3 separate regions of the Homo sapiens genome follow, and all the other regions are reported to be linked to region 3. The links are microRNA targets in miRTarBase. Many come from high-throughput screens and were not tested one by one. Region 3 holds a microRNA gene; each other region holds the end of a gene's coding sequence.

Region 1 (3,899 bases), not on the chromosome of region 3:
CTCTGGGGGCAGCCACTGGCTTCAGGTTCGCCTCCTACTCCATTGCCTCCATAATTACAAGATGCTCTTAGCCTGACTCCCACGGACTCCCATCACCCAGCGCTCGGCTCTCTCGGTGGGGAGGGCAGAGAATGTTTCACTGTCCCTCTGTCTTCTGTGGCATCCTTTGCCTTGCAGCCACAGCCCAGCTAGCCCAGGCCAAGGGAGTCCGACCCCCACCCCGAAGCACAGGGAAGTTGCTGCCCTTTCCCGCAGTGACAGGAATCCTCTCAAAGGTTCTGGAAGGCAAGGATGCGGCCATCCCTGGAGACGCCAAGGTCAGGGAGCCCTGGGGGAAGGGGGAGGGAGGGCTTGCGTCTGTTGCAGGTCCCAGGCAAAGGGGCTGCTTTCCACTCCCGAGGGGGGTGGGTTGGTGGCGGCGGAAGGAGGCTAGGAGGGTGCAGCGCTACAGACCACAGTGAGGGAGTGGGGATGACGCTAGTGCGCCCGGGACCGGGGCCGCCGGGTTCGATGCCCGGGCTGAGGGGTCCCTCGCAGAAGGTGCGGGACGGGGAAGCCCCTGCGCCGGGCTGCCCCGGGTCAGGAAGGAGTTGCCGGGTCGTGCAAGGTGAAGGAAGCCTTAGGGGCGAGTGGCTGGGGGCAGGTTCCCGAGGGCAAGAACTCTCCGACCTTCAGGGCGCTGCGGGGCGACCCCGCTCAGGGTTCAGTCCGAGAACCCAAAGGTTGGTGGCTCCCGGGCATCACTCGCTCCCACTCGGCCGGGCCCGGCCGCCCCTCGCCCCGGCCCTCCCCTCCCGCTGACCTCTCACGACGTCCAGGGCGAGGGCCACCAGGAGGCAGAGCCAGGGGCCGTAGGGCCCCCGAGGGGCCGCTGTTGTGCGACCGGCCATCCGCGCGCACATCCTTCCCACAGAAGGCGGGGACGAGGCGGGCGGCTCAGGTGGCCCCAGTCCCGCACGGCATCTCCCGCACCCGCTCCGCGCCGTCCCCACCTGGCCCGCTGGGTCCCGGCCGCCGCCGCCGCCGCCGCCGCCCGCCCCGCGGCTGCAATTCCCAGACAATGGAGCGGGAGCAGTGGGGTGGGAGGGAGCGAATCGCAGCACATGGGCTGCCCCCTCCGCCCCGCCGGGTCCTAGTGCCCTACGGATCCCCAATCCCTGCGCGCTCAGGCGACCGAGGTCGGGAAGAGGGCCACGTCCCTGGAAGCAACAGAGGACGGCCGCCTCTGCCAGGAGGGACTCGGTGAGTTCTGTGTGGCTCCCTCACGGAAGCTTCTGATCAGGGAAGAAAAAGCCACTTTCTCTGCCTCACCCACCCCCACAAGCAGCTCACTTGTGAAGGCATCTGACACCTGAGTCAGAACCAGAATTCAGGGACACATGGGACGGGAGCTGCAGGGACAGGAAAGGAGGGAGGGGGTCAAACGGGGCCAGATGCCAACCACCTGAGCCTGCCCTGACAGAGCTAGGCCACCGCCGTGGAGGAAGGGCTCTAGGTGCAGGCAGCTCTAGTCTCTTGACCAGCTCCACCTGGGCAGCGTCCTGCAGCGCTTAGGAGGGTTGAGGGTTGCCCAACACTCCCGAGGGAAGGCCAGCCTCAAGGGTCCTGACCCAGTGTTGCCTACCAGGCAGTTTGGGGAGAGGCCCAGAGCAGGGGCCCCAGCTGCACACTCTCATGCCCTGGGCAGCTTACAAAGAAAAAATTATGTCTGAGGCCCTCCGCAAAATTGGTCCAGCCTGTGGGCCGACTGGAAACCTTGGCACAGGAAAGTCCTCAGGTGGGTGGTGAAGGGGAGGGCAGGCAAGTCTTCTCCAGGCTGCCCACCCACCTCAGCACACTGCAGGGAAGGGGTGACCCCTCTGCCCAGCAAGCACACGCATTTCCAGCAGTGCCAGTCGTTCCTACGTTTTGTAATGGGGGCATGCTTTCCTAATTCCTTGTGCTCCTGGAGGGAAGGGTACCTGGTACCAGCCTGCCTTTTCAGCTCTCCCCTCTGCCAGCTTCACACTGCCCCCACAGGGAGAAATTGGGAGGCGGAGCTGCACTACAGAAATGGGTTTAGCAGTAGAGGAGACATGGAAGCAATCCAGACTTGGAGTAAATACATTTTATTCAGAACAAGATAATAAAATAGCGTGCACTTTATTTAAAACCAACCAAGCACTGATAAAAAATATATATCACTGCAGCTGTGATTCCACATCAAACCTGAACAGTAAGAATTGGGCATTTATTCTTCACATCATGTGCCAAGCCTGGCAGAGAAGGACATCCACCTCCACTAGAGCCTCAAAGGAAAAGTGGCCCCTAACCACCAAGACAGGGTACCCTGGTGGAGAGGGGCAGCTGGCAGCTCACCCTGCTCTCTGCAGACCACGTGAAGGGAAAGGAGCTGCCTGTGTTCCTCCCGGGCTGCCGGGGTGGGCACTGGTCAGCAACTCCTTCTCGGTTTCAGGTTGTGGAGCGATGGGGAGAGAAGTGCATGCAGTTGTGCAGACAAGGAGGCGGGTCCTCCCTCCTCTTTCAGGGTCTCTGAAACCCCCACAGGGCATATAATGCCCAGCAAGGTCCCACTTGCAGGCACATGCCTACAAAGCAGCAGCCATCTTTTGCTTTGGCTGATGGGGAATCAAGATTCTGAGAGTGACTGCTCTTTTCTTGACACAAAGCAGCCACAGAACACTTTCCTACATACAGTATGGCAGCAGGCAAGCAGAAGGCCCTGCTGGCTCGGATTAAGGCACTTGAAAGAGACACAAGGTACATCCTCCTCCCCTGCAGCCCCCACAGGCCTCAGGGGACCCTGTTTCCCCACCCTTTATCCTCAGGTCCCCTTACCCCTGCCCCTCCCTACTGCTGGGCAATGAGGAGGACAGGAGCGTGCCTTAAAGGACCATGGTTTGGTGGGAGTACAGGGTAGGAGGATGAGGAAAACAAGAAGGGAGCTGGAGATTTGGCCAAGGAGCAACTTCAGAAGGACAGGAGAGCACGAGCATTAGGAGGAAGCCAAGGCAGCAGCAGAGGGAAGCCAGTTAAGTCATGAGAGACCAACGGCAGTGATGTTTGCTGGCGCAGATGCAGAAGCCAGAGGGAGGCCCCTCCAACCTTCCCTGGTGAGGCAGGCTGGGAGCAGAGAAAGGGTTAAGAGAGCCAACCCCAGACAGAGAACCTCAGAAGACAGGGCCGCAAGGACAGGCAGGGGGAATGGTCTTTCTCTGTTTCTCTTGGCTAGTGGGGCTGCGGCAAGGATCAATGTTCTGAAGGTTCAGAGACAGGGCAAGAAAAGGGCAGGGGGCTGGCAGGAGGGCTGCATGGCCCCGAAGCAGCTCAGCTCTTTGGTATGACACTGGCGGTGTGTGGGGCATCCGGCTCACTCCTCCTCCACACTGCGGGCCCCCTTGGCCGCTCGCCTCTGGCGCCAGCGCAGCTCCTCCACCTGGCGTTCCAGCCCTCGCACCTTGGCCTCGAGTTGGGCCCCAGAGGCTCGGGAGCCAGTGAGCCGGCTCAGCAGGGCGTAGAGGATCAGCAAGGCCAGGAGTAGCAGGGCCCGGGTGGAAGGGTCAGGCACCGACCTCATCAGGGCCACGAAGCCGGCCAGGAAGATGACAAGCTTCAGGCCCCACAGGATCCGCCCCAGCAAGGCCAAGACCAAGCCGAGGAGCAGAGACAGCAGCCAGTAGACGACCAGGGCCCCTGCTCCCCACAGCAGGAAGGTCTGGACCTGGCCAGGGCTGAGCTTCAGGCCCTGGGCGAGGTAATCACCTGGAAGCCAAGAGAGTCACAGAGTCAGCCAACCTGGAGAAGTGGTGAGGGGAGAGCGGGGCAAGAGCTAAAAGGGTGGGAGGTGCTAGGCACATTGCAAAGGAATAAGCCGTTCTCGCAGACTCAGAGTGATATGG
Region 2 (3,899 bases), not on the chromosome of region 3:
ATTCAGGGGTGGGGGAGGTGACAAGGCAGTAACACATTGACTCACATAGAATGACTATCTTAGACCCTAAAGCAGTGGGTGGATCTGACTGACAGTTTAGCCCTAGTGGGGCTGTCTGAAGGGCCCCAGGTCCCTCAGTCCCGTACTGTACTCACCCCCTCCTGTTTCTTTGTCAGATGAGAATATCCCCGAGTTGGCGGCTGAGCTGGTGCAGCTGGGCTTCATTAGTGAGGTGAGGTTTCTGCCTTCATCTGCCCTGGCTGCCCCCATGCCTTCTCTTCTCTCAGCCCCCATCTTACTGAGCTCTTCTCCCCCAGGCTGACCAGAGCCGGTTGACTTCTCTGCTAGAAGAGACCTTGAACAAGTTCAATTTTGCCAGGAACAGTACCCTCAACTCAGCCGCTGTCACCGTCTCCTCTTAGAGCTCACTCGGGCCAGGCCCTGATCTGCGCTGTGGCTGTCCCTGGACGTGCTGCAGCCCTCCTGTCCCTTCCCCCCAGTCAGTATTACCCTGTGAAGCCCCTTCCCTCCTTTATTATTCAGGAGGGCTGGGGGGGCTCCCTGGTTCTGAGCATCATCCTTTCCCCTCCCCTCTCTTCCTCCCCTCTGCACTTTGTTTACTTGTTTTGCACAGACGTGGGCCTGGGCCTTCTCAGCAGCCGCCTTCTAGTTGGGGGCTAGTCGCTGATCTGCCGGCTCCCGCCCAGCCTGTGTGGAAAGGAGGCCCACGGGCACTAGGGGAGCCGAATTCTACAATCCCGCTGGGGCGGCCGGGGCGGGAGAGAAAGGTGGTGCTGCAGTGGTGGCCCTGGGGGGCCATTCGATTCGCCTCAGTTGCTGCTGTAATAAAAGTCTACTTTTTGCTAAAAGCGTCGTGTGTTCGCGCCTTTCCCGCCAGGGGGAGCGGGCCCGGGGCGGAGGCGGGGCCCAGGTGGGAGGGGGACCCGGGACGGAGGCGGGGCCCAGGTTGGGGCGGGGCCGGGCCCAGGTACAGCGGCCCTGCGGCTGGCGCGGCGGACGGGATGAGGCGCTGCAGTCTCTGCGCTTTCGGTAACTTCCGGGCCCTGGCGTCTCGTCTCCTTACCCTGGGGCTACCCTTGCCCCGTCCTACTGCCCGCGGTTAACCCGCCGCGAGCCGCCTCTCCCCTCCCCGCCCGACTCAACCCTGCCCTCCCCCGTGCTTTGCAGACGCCGCCCGGGGGCCCAGGCGGCTGATGCGTGTGGGCCTCGCGCTGATCTTGGTGGGCCACGTGAACCTGCTGCTGGGGGCCGTGCTGCATGGCACCGTCCTGCGGCACGTGGCCAATCCCCGCGGCGCTGTCACGCCGGAGTACACCGTAGCCAATGTCATCTCTGTCGGCTCGGGGCTGCTGGTGAGCGCGGCAGGCGACCCGGGCGGGGGCCGGGCTCCCGGAGAGCCCAGCAGGCCAAAGGCTTTGTGTCTTCCACAGAGCGTTTCCGTGGGACTTGTGGCCCTCCTGGCGTCCAGGAACCTTCTTCGCCCTCCACTGGTGAGAGGGACTTCCCTGGAGCTTTTAACGAGTAGGCTTGAGTCAGGGAAATGGGGGCTGACTGAGCTTGGTCTTTCAATAGATTGGAGGAGCCTCAGAGAAACTGGGTGTCTAGTCACTGGGAGAGTTAGCCAGGCCCAGGCTGCTCACCCTGATCTCCTGTCCCTGCCAGCACTGGGTCCTGCTGGCACTAGCTCTGGTGAACCTGCTCTTGTCCGTTGCCTGCTCCCTGGGCCTCCTTCTTGCTGTGTCACTCACTGTGGCCAACGGTGGCCGCCGCCTTATTGCTGACTGCCACCCAGGACTGCTGGATCCTCTGGTACCACTGGATGAGGGGCCGGGACATACTGACTGCCCCTTTGACCCCACAAGAATCTATGTGAGCACATTCTCTTCCTTCTTGTGGTCTACAAAGCCTTGGTCCTGCCCTTTTAATTTCCCCTATTTGCTGCACTTGCCCTACTCCCTCCTACTCCCCATCCTTCTTGCTTTTCAGGATACAGCCTTGGCTCTCTGGATCCCTTCTTTGCTCATGTCTGCAGGGGAGGCTGCTCTATCTGGTTACTGCTGTGTGGCTGCACTCACTCTACGTGGAGTTGGGCCCTGCAGGAAGGACGGACTTCAGGGGCAGGTAAGGAAGGCAAACAGGAAGGGTTCATTCCACAGAGACTGGCTGTGTTGAAAAGATGCTGACCGGCCGGGTGCGGAGGCTCACACCTGTAATCCCAGCACTTTGGGAGGCTGAGGCAGGCGGATCACTTGAGGTCAGGAGTTTGAGACCAGCTTGGACAACATGGTGAAACCTCGTCTCTACTAAAAATACAAAAAATTAGGTGGGGTGGTGGGCGCCTGTAATCCCAGCTACTTGGAAGGCTGAGGCAGGAGAATCGCTTGAACCCGGAAGGCGGAGGTTGCAGTGAACCGAGATCACGCCACTGCACTCCAGCCTGGGCAACAGAGTGAGGCTCCGTCACAAAAAACAAAACAAAAAAAAGATGCTGACCTATCATTCAGGGCGAGGGTGTCTAACTCTATCTTCTTCTGCAGCTAGAGGAAATGACAGAGCTTGAATCTCCTAAATGTAAAAGGCAGGAAAATGAGCAGCTACTGGATCAAAATCAAGAAATCCGGGCATCACAGAGAAGTTGGGTTTAGGACAGGTAATGGGCCTTGAAGGTGGTGGCCCGGGTAAGAGCGGGGACAAGGAAGTGCTCTTAGAACTGGGTCTAGGTCTTGCCATGCTGCTTTCCCCTCTGACCTGGGTTGGTTCTCCCCTCTGTCCAGCAGGTGCTGTTCCGAGACTCAGTCCTAAAGGGTTTTTTTTCCCACTAAGCAAGGGGCCCTGACCTCGGGATGAGATAACAAATTGTAATAAAGTAACTTCTCTTTTCTTCTACTTGATTATGATTCCTTTTGGGGAAAAGGCACTGTGTGGTGTTGGGAATGACTTTGATCAAAGAATACAGTGGTCTCAATTATTTATAAAACTTTAATGAGGGAGAGGCCCTAACTCTTCCTCAGCTCTACCAACTACTGAAAGGAAAAGCTGGTGCTGGGGAGCCCTCCACACCACTGACTGATGAATTTCAGCACGTCCTGGCACACTGGGCTGTGGGAGGTCTGTGAGCAAATGGAAGAACATGAGAGGAACTTGTTAATGCTGGAAATACAAAATCAGCTCCATCGCAGGCTTCAGGGTCTGCATCTGCCTTCCTGTAATCCCACCCATCTTTCTAGTGTGTATGTGGGTTTTTTGTTTGTTTTGAGACAAAGTCTTGCTTTGTCGCCCAGGCTGGAGTGCAGTGGCACAATCTCAGCTCACTGCAACCTCTGCCTCTCGGGTTTAAGCGATTCTCCTGCCTCAGCCTCCTGAGTAGCTGGGATTACAGGTGCACGCCACCAGACCCGGCTAACTTTTGTATTTTTAGTAGAGACGAGGTTTTAACCATGTTGGCCAGGCTGGTCTCAAACTCCTGACCTCAGGTGATCCGCCCACCTTGGCCTCCCAAAGTGCTGGGATTAAAGGTATGAGCCACTGCACCCAGACTTGTTTTTTTTTCTTTTTTTAGTGCTGCCCTCTCTGCCTTCATTCTCCAAGTCCTCCTCTCTAACCTTGATGGCCATAAGGAATTTATTCCAGTTGTCCTTGTTAGCAGCCTTCCCTGGCCGCTTAAATTCAATTTTGTTCCTCAGAATGGGGTATCCTGTGGAGGAAGAAAAAATGATGAACTGGGGTTTGAGAGAGATTGAGGAGGGAAAAATGAGGAGCAGCCTGGGGGGTAGAAAGCACAGTCCTGTCTTTTGTACCCTTTACTGAATCCTAGTAAAATTAAGTTTATTGATCCTGCTGCTTTCTACCCACCACAGGATCTGGGGTGCTGTAGGCTT
Region 3 (5,058 bases):
GCTGGACATGGTGGTTCACAACGACAGGCTACTGAGCACCCTTTTCAACACGACCACCATCTCTCAAGTGGCCCCTGGCGAGGACTAGCTTCTGACACCCGGCCCCTGGGACCTGACAGGTCCACTCGTCCACCCACCCGGCCCCAAATCCCCCGGCCTGAACCCCCGGCCTTAAACACCCTCCCCCCACAACCCAGGCCCCAAAGTCTTGGGCCTTCATTAATTCTGTCAATAAAATGTTTCAAGGAAGCCATCTGCCCGCTTCAGTCACTTTGCCTTGGGGTGGGGGTGGGGGGGCGGTGAGATGGGTTGGGGGGTTGTGAGACCTCCACAGCTGGAGGGATGGAGAGGTGGTGGGGGTCTGGGGTTGGGTGGGAGCCAGGGATGGCACAGAGGAGCCGTCTCTCCGGGTGACAGTGCAGGGGAGTGGCCCTGGGTGGGAAGGGGACACCCCCGCTGGTTCTGAGCAAGTCAGGGCCTGCCCGGGAAAGTCCTCAGCATGATGGTGTTCGTTGGGGCGGGTGGGCCTCAAGACCATGACTGCAGTGTTGCGACAGGACGGACTTCTAAGGCAACCGGGGTGGGGACGGAGAGGTGGACCCGGTGCTTGGCAAGGGGCCCTGGACCGGAAGACGGAGGACTGAGTAGTCGGGGCGGGGGGGGGGGGGGGGACAACAGTCCAGAAATGCGCAGACATGGAATTAGGGTCACGAGTTTCCTTTGGGTCATGTTCAGATGGAGAGGCTGTGGGATGCCTTTAGCAACCTAGACCACTTGCATTGCAGCCGAGCTAGCAGCAGCTGGTGCCCCGCCAGGCCCCGCGTACCTTCCCAGGGTCTTGGATCCGCATCCCCGAGACCCTCGATTTGCATACGCCGCTCACAGCCCGGCCAGGCCCCGCCTCCGATCCCGCTCTTTGCACCTCACCAGGGCAAGGGGCAGGCTCGGGCTGGGGAGCCGGCGCGGGCACGGCGGCAGCCCGCCGAGGGGGACGCAGGGCACGTCGCCCCGCCCCGGCCCGCCCGCCAGCTGCGGCGGCGCGTCGGGAAGTGCTTGGGGCGGCGAGCATGGCGGCAGCGGCTGCAGGCCTGGGCGGCGGCGGCGCCGGCCCGGGACCCGAGGCCGGGGACTTCCTGGCCCGCTACCGGCTGGTATCGAACAAGCTGAAGAAGCGGTTCCTGCGGAAGCCGAACGTGGCGGAGGCCGGCGAGCAGTTCGGACAGCTGGGCCGGGAGCTGCGCGCCCAGGAGTGTCTGCCCTACGCGGCCTGGTGCCAGCTGGCGGTGGCGCGCTGCCAGCAGGCGCTCTTCCACGGGCCCGGGGAGGCGCTGGCCCTCACCGAGGCCGCCCGCCTCTTCCTGCGGCAGGAGCGCGACGCGCGCCAGCGCCTGGTCTGCCCCGCCGCCTACGGGGAGCCGCTGCAGGCCGCCGCCAGCGCCCTGGGCGCCGCGGTGCGTCTGCACCTCGAGCTGGGCCAGCCGGCCGCCGCCGCCGCCCTCTGCCTCGAGCTGGCCGCCGCCCTGCGCGACCTGGGCCAGCCGGCCGCCGCCGCCGGTCACTTCCAGCGCGCCGCCCAGCTCCAGCTGCCCCAGCTGCCCCTGGCCGCGCTGCAGGCGCTTGGCGAGGCCGCCTCCTGCCAGCTGCTGGCGCGCGACTACACCGGCGCCCTGGCGGTCTTCACGCGCATGCAGCGCCTGGCGCGGGAGCACGGCAGCCACCCGGTGCAGTCACTGCCGCCGCCCCCGCCGCCGGCACCCCAGCCCGGGCCCGGGGCGACGCCCGCCCTACCGGCCGCGCTGCTTCCTCCGAACTCCGGCTCGGCGGCGCCCTCTCCCGCCGCCCTGGGCGCCTTCTCGGACGTGCTGGTCCGCTGCGAGGTGTCCCGCGTGCTGCTGCTGCTCCTCCTGCAACCACCGCCCGCCAAGCTGCTGCCGGAGCACGCCCAGACCCTGGAGAAGTACTCCTGGGAGGCTTTTGACAGCCACGGGCAGGAGAGCAGCGGCCAGCTTCCCGAGGAGCTCTTTCTGCTGCTCCAGTCTTTGGTCATGGCTACCCACGAAAAGGACACGGAAGCCATCAAGTCGCTGCAGGTGGAGATGTGGCCACTGTTGACTGCTGAGCAGAACCACCTCCTTCACCTCGTTCTGCAAGAAACCATCTCCCCCTCAGGACAGGGAGTCTGATCCATCCCATTCACCCAGTGACTTCTTTTTGCCCAGGCCGGGACTTTTTGCATCAGTCACGTTAACCAGATGACTTTGCCTGTTACCAAACCTCATGCATCCACGTTTGCGTCTGGGGAGGAATAAAAAGACATCGTTCCCGCTTCTGCGTTTTGTTATTCCTACTGCCGCCATAGGAATTATTTCGTTGGCTGAACGTTACCAGCACCCCGAGAACACATTTTGATAGAATCAGAGTAGAGGACATGGCTGTCTTCTAAAAAGCCACGACATGAAAATGACAATCCCTTTCGTCTCCTTCCTCCGCTGCTTCCACCCAACGCAGCCTCCTGCCTCCGCCTTTGTTTCATAGTGAGGATTTTATTTTGCACGGCGCCCTCCCTCTAAATACCTACCCTAGATGATTTCATCCTGCCCCTCACTTCTTAACATATTCCTGTGTCTTTGTAATGGCCAAATTTCTCCTTCCACTCGTCCGCACGGTACGTCTTCATGGGAGTCATTTTATTCCTTACAGCTTCCTTGTAACCACAGCCCTAAATCCATGATAAAGCTACTCTTGTACTCCTCATGTGTGGTTTTGGTGTCCGTCGTCTATAAAATGTGACTCTCTTACCTACTTGTCAGGAGGCCAGCAGCAGAACCAGATAGCTGTTTGGGCTCCAGGATGTATTCGTTCCTTTGAAATTTGCGCTATGCCTCCTATGTGGGCAACGAACCTGCAGAGATCATCTATGATGTGCTCCGTACTCGGGTGACTGCAATGCAGATACATCCAGTGCAGCGGGTCTGGTGCCGATGCATCGATTTGCATTGGAATTCACGGTTCTGGTTCCATTCGCAGAGGTATATGCAGTCTGGATCACAACAGCTTTTATTTGTAATAGGGATTTTTTTTTTTTTTTTTTTTTCCCCCCCCGAGATGGAGTCTCACTCTGTCGCCCAGGCAGGAGCGCAGTGGCGTGATCTCGGCTCACTGCAACCTCCGCCTCCTGGGTTCAAGCGATTCTCCTACCTCAACCTCCAGGGTGCCTGGGATTACAGGCGTGCACCACCACGCTGGGCTAATTTTTGTATTTTTAATAGAGATGGGGTCTCACCATGTTGGCCAAGCTGGTCTCCAACTCCTGACCTCAAATGATCCACCCTCCTCGGCCTCCCAAAGTGCTGGGATTACAGGCATGAGCCACCACGCCTGGCCTGTAATAGGGATTTTGCTGCAACTTTTAGTTAAGTAGGTGAAATCAGAGTGCGTGGCCCTTTGGTGTTGCGCGATCACGTGACTGCAAGGCAGCCTCCGTGTTCCCCCAAAGCAGGATGGCGTTCCGTTTGAGAACACTTAAGTTTCCAAGGCTTTCTGCCTCAAATGGAGCATGCCCCCCAACTACGCTGTTTTCTTATTTATTGCGTCTTTTTAATCCTTTTGATGGTGACAACAAGAACTCTTCAGAATATAGCCTCTTTCTCAAACTTTCAACCCTGGGGAAATGCATCCTTTGGGCCGAAGTTGCACACAATCCTGATCTTCGGGGCTGAGATGTAAGGACACAGTTTGGAGTAGGTGTTTTTGTTTTGCGTCTTTTTGCAGGGGAGAGGTGTGGAGGGTTGTCACTGTGAGTTGAGTGCCTCCAAATGGGTGGGACTTGTAGGGTGTTCTTTTCTGCTTCTATTTCTATTTCGACAGTGTGGAAGTAATGGGAAGCACAGGAGAGGCCCATTCCACCATCATTCCTCTTTCTCTCACTTGGCTGCCAGGAAGGGTCCTACGGAGCCCTGAACGCCTAGCCCAAATTATTGTAAAAGCGGTTGAAGGGCTCATGCTCTTTTGCTCTTTGGCTCTTTCCTGGTATGCTCCTCTTAACCCGGGCTGCAGACCTGGCCGGCTGGCTTCTTGTCAGGTTCAGGAGTTACGGAGCATGACTGGTGACCAGTTTGGGATTTGGGCTTCAGGAGAAGCCTCCTTAGGCCTCTGGTCCAAACTCCTTGCGTCAGGGAGGTGAGGGGAAGGATAACCAGACGGTCAGGTAGTGGGTATCTGAGCATAATTCTAGGAAACACTAAAACTCCTCGTTTTCCATTTGCCGTGGGCTCATTCATGTATCTCCCTCAGAAGCTTAAGAGCAGTGATAACTGGGCCGAGGCCAGATTTCAGCAGTTTTGAGAATTCCCTCGTAATGTATCACATCAGTATCAAAAGTCAACACTGATTTCTAGCATGCCAAAAGCAAATACTTTCAGAGGACATGATTAGTTTGCTTTTTAACTTGAAAACAATTCCAAATTCACACTTAAAACAGTGTAAACCGTCGGAAATGGTGGCAGCGAAGCAGTGAACCCTTAAAGGCTGTTGGGGTTCCCCTTCTCCCCATTGTGAGGTACTCCCAAAAGGATAAATGTTGCTTATGAAAGAATATTTTATACGTGAATAGTACAAAGACAAAGACGTTTGAGAACCGCTACGCCGGAGGAAGGTGGTCAAGACTGAAATTAGCGTGTTAGGCAAGATCTGGTTCCTAGGTGCTGAGGATTCTGGTGCCAAGGATTAATGTTAACCGTGCAGGCATCTCTACCACCGTTAGAGGAGACCAGCAGCCCACAGACTCTTTCTGTCAAGGGCGGGATAGAAATGTGTTAGTCTTTACAGACCACAGGTGGTCTCTGTTGCACAGTCTTCTTTGTTTCTTTGTATGTTTGTCTTTGCAATCCTTTCAACGTGTAAAAACTATTCTTAACTCACAGTCCGTACAAAAGCAGGCTATGGGCCAAATTCTGGGGCTATAGTTTGCCCACCCCTGAATTAGAACCCAGGACATAGTAGTTGCTCAATAACTGTTTAATTTTTTTTTATTTCAATAACTTTTGGCTTACAAGTGCT

The links. Region 3 holds the annotated microRNA hsa-miR-1184 (CCUGCAGCGACUUGAUGGCUUCC, at 2,069-2,091, opposite strand). A microRNA usually pairs through its seed, bases 2 to 8, with sites in the 3' UTR of a target mRNA and lowers its output. Matches are read on the target gene's strand: a 7mer-m8 pairs with bases 2 to 8, a 7mer-A1 pairs with bases 2 to 7 and ends in A, and an 8mer does both.
Region 1: miRTarBase lists TMEM109 as a target of hsa-miR-1184. Seed matches in the 3' UTR shown: 7mer-m8 at 2,776-2,782, 7mer-A1 at 2,366-2,372 and 7mer-m8 at 2,184-2,190.
Region 2: miRTarBase lists NRBP1 as a target of hsa-miR-1184. Seed matches in the 3' UTR shown: 7mer-m8 at 472-478 and 7mer-m8 at 794-800.

What each region holds. Positions count from the first base shown.
Region 1 is chr11:60,921,637-60,925,535 of GRCh38, reverse strand. TMEM109 (transmembrane protein 109) reads right to left here. Exons shown (of 4, transcript NM_024092.3): 4 at 2,093-3,762. The coding sequence ends at 3,371. TMEM132A (transmembrane protein 132A) reads right to left here and starts at 1,076. Exons shown (of 11, transcript NM_178031.3): 1 at 803-1,076. The coding sequence starts at 902. It overlaps LOC124902676 (a long non-coding RNA gene), which reads left to right and starts at 139. Exons shown (of 2, transcript XR_007062688.1): 1 at 139-317. RefSeq lists silencers at 431-500, 541-760, 821-1,180.
Region 2 is chr2:27,441,391-27,445,289 of GRCh38, forward strand. It overlaps NRBP1 (nuclear receptor binding protein 1), which reads left to right. Exons shown (of 18, transcript NM_013392.4): 17 at 177-232; 18 at 318-869. The coding sequence ends at 422. It overlaps KRTCAP3 (keratinocyte associated protein 3), which reads left to right and starts at 991. Exons shown (of 7, transcript NM_173853.4): 1 at 991-1,050; 2 at 1,189-1,373; 3 at 1,452-1,511; 4 at 1,684-1,890; 5 at 2,008-2,142; 6 at 2,559-2,671; 7 at 2,796-2,907. The coding sequence starts at 1,023. The coding sequence ends at 2,666. It overlaps IFT172 (intraflagellar transport 172), which reads right to left. Exons shown (of 48, transcript NM_015662.3): 47 at 3,624-3,715; 48 at 2,987-3,131. The coding sequence ends at 3,042. RefSeq lists an enhancer at 1,126-1,668.
Region 3 is chrX:155,454,610-155,459,667 of GRCh38, reverse strand. It overlaps MIR1184-3 (microRNA 1184-3), which reads right to left and starts at 2,151; the gene lies at 2,053-2,151. F8A3 (coagulation factor VIII associated 3) reads left to right here and starts at 1,048. Exons shown (of 1, transcript NM_001007524.2): 1 at 1,048-2,754. The coding sequence starts at 1,068. The coding sequence ends at 2,183. It overlaps H2AB3 (H2A.B variant histone 3), which reads left to right. Exons shown (of 1, transcript NM_080720.3): 1 at 1-253. The coding sequence ends at 88.